2 separate regions of the Homo sapiens genome follow, and region 1 is linked to region 2. Evidence: fine-mapped expression QTL. A gene starts in region 2. The other region holds a variant in brackets. All regions are shown on one strand. Distances are between the middles of the regions.

Region 1 (2,888 bases), 22 kb before region 2:
ATTTCTTCCAACTGAGGCAAGAAGAGACACCCGGAAGGCTTTAAGTAAGAGGCTGCATTTGAACCAGCCGTTAGGGCTCTAGGCTGGGAGAAGGGGTGAGCAGAAGGAGAAAAAAACAAGAAAGAGTATGTGCCAAGTGCGTAGTGCCCAAAACAAGGCCAAATATTAAATGCTTGGAGCTGAGAGAAAAATGTGATTCCTCTGGCCTATGGTTAGATAAAGCTTTCTATCAGAGATGATGTTTTACTTAGAGGAAAGCAGAAAATAGAAGCGAATACGGAATGATCGATGTATGTACAGCATAAGGTCAGGGAGCAGATAGGTCTGGCAGAGAGTGAGGGGTAATGTGGGCTGGAGAGGAAATTGGAAGCCACTCAGTGAAGCTAAAAAGTCAGCCAAAAGCATTTGATTTCCATGAGAAGTCATAATTTTCTGAGTAAGACAATTCTCCTAAAGCGTTGACTCTCTAGGCACAAGCAGCAATAGCATCCTTTAAGAACTCATTAGAAATGTGAATTTTAGGGCCTGATCCCAGACTACAGACTACAGAAATTGAACAGTCTGTTTTAATAAGTCCTCTAGATGATTCTGCTATACACCAACATTTGAGAACACTGTGACTTACACAATTATGATCCTTAAGGGAATAGCCAAGTTTCTAAAAAAGATAACTTAGTTCTAACTCCTGCTGCTGTTTTACAGATCAAATCTCTGGAGACAGAAACTATTCTCTTAAAATTATGTAGATTCATGAGTTTGGTTAAGGATAAATGTACATAGCTCACATCCCCTCAGTCTCTCCCTATAGTCCAAAGTTGTTGAGCAAGGAATCTGTAGAGTATTGATTTAAATTGATTAAGTTACATGTTTATGAAACTCTAAGAGACTAGTTTTAGAAATTTCACTGTAATTTCTGCTGGGATAAATTTGTTAGCCTGGGATATCTTCCAAAGATAAGGCGGATGCTCAAATATGTGTAAATTCATGCAACTGTTAACAGAGACTGTGCTGTAAGGAGTACTTATGTCCTATAGTAATTTTATTAAACAAATACATGTATGTCTCCTTTTGATGTGTACAGAAATATACTGTTTAATCTGAAGAAGCTGATTGAAACAGGAAAAATTTAAAAAGTAAAAACACTCAACCCATGTAATACTTTATTTTTATAACAAGGTGTTCTCTTTAATACGCCTATTAGATTATCCTGAAGTTCTCTATTTACTCTTACTTTAAAAAAAATCCAATGAAAGAAAATTTCAGTAAAGTTTGTTTTGCTAGAAGAATCAGGATTCTTGTACTGAGTTGTCTAATAATATGAATCAAATTGATTTACACTGAATGAACTAGCTCTTGATTTGGTAAAATTCAACAAGCATTTATTAGGTGCTTTCAGAAATACCAAGATGCAGCA[A/C]ACACTGGCAACTAATAAAAAAAATTACAAGTATAATAGTATTTCATTTTTTTTAATAGTAAATGATCATGTGTTGTGTTGTGTGGCAGTTCACTTTTTCCTCCCTACTGATGATTCATTCAAACAGCTAGGCCATCCCATGCTCACAGCCTAGAGGAGGAATGAGACCAGGCATAGTATAGAAACACACCCCACTTTGTTCTTCAAAAACTGAAGGATATTAGAGAAAATGAGAGGAACCCAAAACCAAAGTATTTGAGAGAAACATTAAATGTGAGTAATAGGTTTGAGAAAAAAATACAGCTTTTCCTCAGTATTTCCAGAAGCCAGGAGGCAGCAGCAGACATGATGTCATTAGAGTGGTCAGACTGGTGGTACCCAGTGGTGGGAAAATGTGAAACACTGTAAGTGATCACCAGCCTAACAACAGCCACCAGCACTGGAAGACCACTCATCTTTATTGAAGTGGGCACTTCCCATCTCTAACACCCTGGTTGTCATTCCCATTGGCATCTGGCAAGGACTTCCTGTGAACTGCCACCAGCTATTCTTCCAGTCACCTCACAGAAAGACTATGCACCAAGACTTTTCTTGGTCCTTGTCTCATTCATTTCCATATGAATCCCCCTAGCTGTTGCATCCAACATTCTGAAACATAATCCTAAAACTAAAAGGAGATTGAAACCCTAGACACATATAGGTCCAGAAAAAGTAGCAAAGTGAGAGTCCTGTCTCCCTTCTCCTCTCTCTCACCCTCTGTGTGTGTGTGTGTGTGTGTGTGTGTATGTGTATGGTAGCAAATGAATCAATTTAACATCCTCTTCAAAATAATAGAGTTCTTAATAGAAACCTATTACAAATAAGCAAGGTTTCAGCTTTGCTGTGGAGAGAAAATGAGAGTTAATGTATTGAAACTCATCGTTTTTTCCAGAACCTCCAAGCTCTGGTAATGGTCAAAATCCACTTGACCCTCCCTACCAAACATTTTGAAATTATATGAGGATGGAGAAGGGACTCCTTATTTTAAATGACAATGGGAATTACAATGATGGCTTTGGCTTGGAGTTATTATTGCTTTTCCTATTCTCAACAGAGTTCTATCAGGTATCATGTGAAATAGTTAACTTCAACACCAATCTTAGGAGTACATACTCATTTACAATGCATGAGAACCAAAGACTTATGGTAGACAAAGAGACTGCCCTATCTCATTTCTTTAAATAAAGCACATCTCAGATATCCTACTTCTGCAAGTGTTTTCCTTGTGAAAGTCTTTTCTTTGTGAAAGGCTAGAGTACTTCCATTTTTCCACCTCTAGTATTTTCTAATCATAAGACCTCAGGAGACAAGTGAGAATGAACTATCTGTTCTGGTCTTACTCACATAAGCAAGAAAAGTCTATTATTGCTCATTCACTGTTCTCACTTACTTATGAATCATATTTAAAATATTTAGTGATGGCTTCTGATCGTCA
Region 2 (2,920 bases):
TATTAATATGCTGTTGATGCCAGACTGTGTTTGTTATAGTTGATTCTCCCATCCAAGTACAAGAAATGTATTGAAATAAAAACTGCTCAGCATATCTTAAAAATAGTAGCTACATATAAAATTTTAGCTACATGAAAGACTTTAATATTTCCAACATACACTGTTTTCTCTTTCTCTTCTTGCATTGTTTTTCAAAACGAGTTGCAAAACTATGATCACTAATGTGTTAGGAAAGAAAAAAAACTAGTTGCAAAACATTACAACTTAGCTCACCTTCGCAGTTCAAGATTATTTTCTTTTTTATGTACTACCTGGTTTATCAGCTTTAACCTACAATATCTCGTCATTGCTTTCTGACACTCAAATTCAGTCTAAAATCAAATCAAGAATTTCCTAACACAAAGGTAAGTTTAGGTATAGGACCGATCTTATACCTTCAAGGGCAGTTTAAAGATTCTGCTAAAAATTAGTATGTATCTCCATCAATATTTTGAAATATTTATAACTGGTGGTAAGAATAGCCTTCCTACATGGGATAGTCAGGTTAAGATTAGAAATAACCAAGCGTATCCTCTAAGATAGTTTTTTAAATGTTTAAACTTACCTTTAAGGGAAATAAGTGGGGGCTGACTCACGGAAAGAGGGGATAGAAGGTAGGGAAAGGGCGAAGGCTAGAGTTAAGTGAAGAATCCCGTACGTAGAGTGACATCATAGAGGACTTTTGGCTGGTGAAAAGACCAGTCGGGAATATAGCCAATATATATCAACCTTGCCACTCATATAACTTAAAACCGACTGCATATGTATCCCCGTATTTCTTCTTCAAAACACTACTAACAAATAATAAATCACCGCCCATATAAGCAATCTGCGACTCTAATACGGGTGCTAATTTATTTGTTCAGGTGGTCTACAAACGTTCTGTTCTGCCTGTCTATTAAATTTCCACACGTACTAGGCGCTCACATGGGATAACCTGATGCTTACAAAGCGGATTAAACTCAGTGGCAAATGTTATCTGGGTATTCGTTTACACACGGAGACACCCCTAAAGGATCGCACCTGCTTGGGTCATAAGAAACAGAAAAATGCAAAAACTAAGGTAATTCCAAAAGACAGAAAACGCAGAACGCTTCTTTATCTGCAGAATGTACCGTTCTCGGACGGCTCAACGTACCAGGCTCCCAGCAACTAAGTCAAGATGCCTCCAACTCGAGAGACAGGACCGTCAGCCACTCAGTTAGCAGCTATCTTCTTCTAATTCCTATTGTACTAGATGAGCGCAATGAGGCGGGCTCTTAGCCGACAACCAACCAATTGAGTATTGTATGGAACCGGAAGAGACTCTGGTCCTGGAATTCTTGGGTATTCTCTATGGTTCCAGGGTCAAGCGGCGCTAAGAGAAGGCGGGACAGAGGAATGGGAAATGACGTGAGGAGTGCGGAGGGGCGCGAGGTTTCAAGATGGCGGTAGCTGAGGGGTTGACCGAGAGACCCAGTTGAAGGCCTTTACGAAGTGAAAGAGGCCGGGAGTCGCCCCCTACCCGCTTCTCGTAGTCCTGGGAGCACAGCAGAAGTGTGAGTGTATTGAATTGATTTACTACTCTTCCTCACCTCTTTCGTCCCTTCCACGTCCCGCGCAGCGGCTTGGGGGACACCCAGCCCCTTTGCCCCGCTCCTCCTCTCCCTGGTTGAGGTCTCCCTGTTGCGGACTGGGCTATTCCTGGGCCTGGGGTGGCGCGGCGACCAGTGGTTGCGCGGTTGGCATCGCCCGGGTCGGTTGGGGCCGCTTCTTACGCACGTTGATTAGTAGCCTTAGGTTTGACGTCTTGTACCTCGAGTCATGGTCGGTCAGCCGTCGCTATGGTTTCGTCAGTTGCTGGTGTTGCCTCCTTTGGTGAACCTGGACCCTATCCCATTGAAGCTTCTTTGGCTGTTTAGAGTTATCCAACGCTTATTTGGCTTGATTTTCCAGTCGCCTCCGCTTGTAGACAAAAAACTAATCTGCAGACTTAAGCTCCAGTGTCTTCCGTAAAATTCTCTGTAATTCGTATCCGTTGTGTTTCATTTGTGGGGGAGGAGATTCAGAACATGAGCCTGAGGAAACTTGAGAAAGGAAAGCACAAAAAACGCAGGCAATCAAAGATGGGAGAGCTTGTATATGTACTGATTTTGCTTGTTTTCCTCCTTCCCTACCTCCTACTCCCTGCTGCTCTCCCACCCCCCTAACCCCCCCATCCCCAGTTTTTCTTAGAAGGAAACCACTTGACAGGGTGTATGGTAGCTAGGCCAGGAATATGGATCCATTATAAAGATTTTAGTTAAGTAGTGAGTCAAACATCACAGGATATTTTATTTGTAATCTCATTGTATCATCAGAGCTTTGTTATAAAGTAATTGATGTCCCCATTTTTTAGATGAGGAAGCTAAAAATCAGAGCCTTTGATACCGCTGTCTTGAAGTAATTGCCACCAGAACAGCTGTGAAACATCTGGCTTTCTGAAACATCTGGCTTTCGGGGCAGTTGGACACTTGGTGAAAGAGACATTAACTGTAATAAACTGGGCTGACAAAATCTTCCCTTTCTTACCTTTAAAAAGTGTCTACTTGCAAAAGGAAGCAAATTTGTCCGCCTTTATTACTGGAAAGACTGCGCTTCAAAAAATTAAGCCCCATTATTTTGGAATAAGAGGAAGAAGTCATGTAATAGGGTACTGTGTTAATAAAAGTTTTAGCTTACAAAATATTTTTTCCTCAAACAAAAATAAGTATTCCCTTTAATTACCTTAAGAAATATATATTGGGAGTCAGGTCTTAGTAAGAAAAATATGTGTCTTAATATTTAAGTTTTGGGGAGCTCTCAGTATAGCACTAATTTCAAATATTTGCATTTTTAGTTGTGTTTTGAACTCTTGAGAGTC

The links. PIP is the estimated chance that this variant, and not a neighbour inherited with it, causes the effect. A credible set is the group of variants that fine-mapping cannot tell apart.
Region 1: its variant is the best candidate, but not a certain one, in a credible set for the expression of C12orf60 in sun-exposed skin (GTEx, PIP 0.53).

The regions. Positions count from the first base shown.
Region 1 is chr12:14,824,128-14,827,015 of GRCh38, reverse strand. ART4 (ADP-ribosyltransferase 4 (inactive) (Dombrock blood group)) reads left to right here. Exons shown (of 3, transcript NM_021071.4): 3 at 1-1,447. C12orf60 (chromosome 12 open reading frame 60) reads right to left here. Exons shown (of 2, transcript NM_175874.4): 2 at 2,601-2,888. Among named protein-coding and RNA genes, the nearest start is that of SMCO3, 11 kb to the right of the region's middle. The variant A/C (reference allele first, on the strand shown) is at 1,415.
Region 2 is chr12:14,802,009-14,804,928 of GRCh38, reverse strand. It overlaps C12orf60 (chromosome 12 open reading frame 60), which reads right to left and starts at 1,259. Exons shown (of 2, transcript NM_175874.4): 1 at 1,178-1,259. It overlaps WBP11 (WW domain binding protein 11), which reads left to right and starts at 1,451. Exons shown (of 12, transcript NM_016312.3): 1 at 1,451-1,577. SMCO3 (single-pass membrane protein with coiled-coil domains 3) reads left to right here. Exons shown (of 2, transcript NM_001013698.2): 2 at 1-279. RefSeq lists an enhancer at 916-1,155.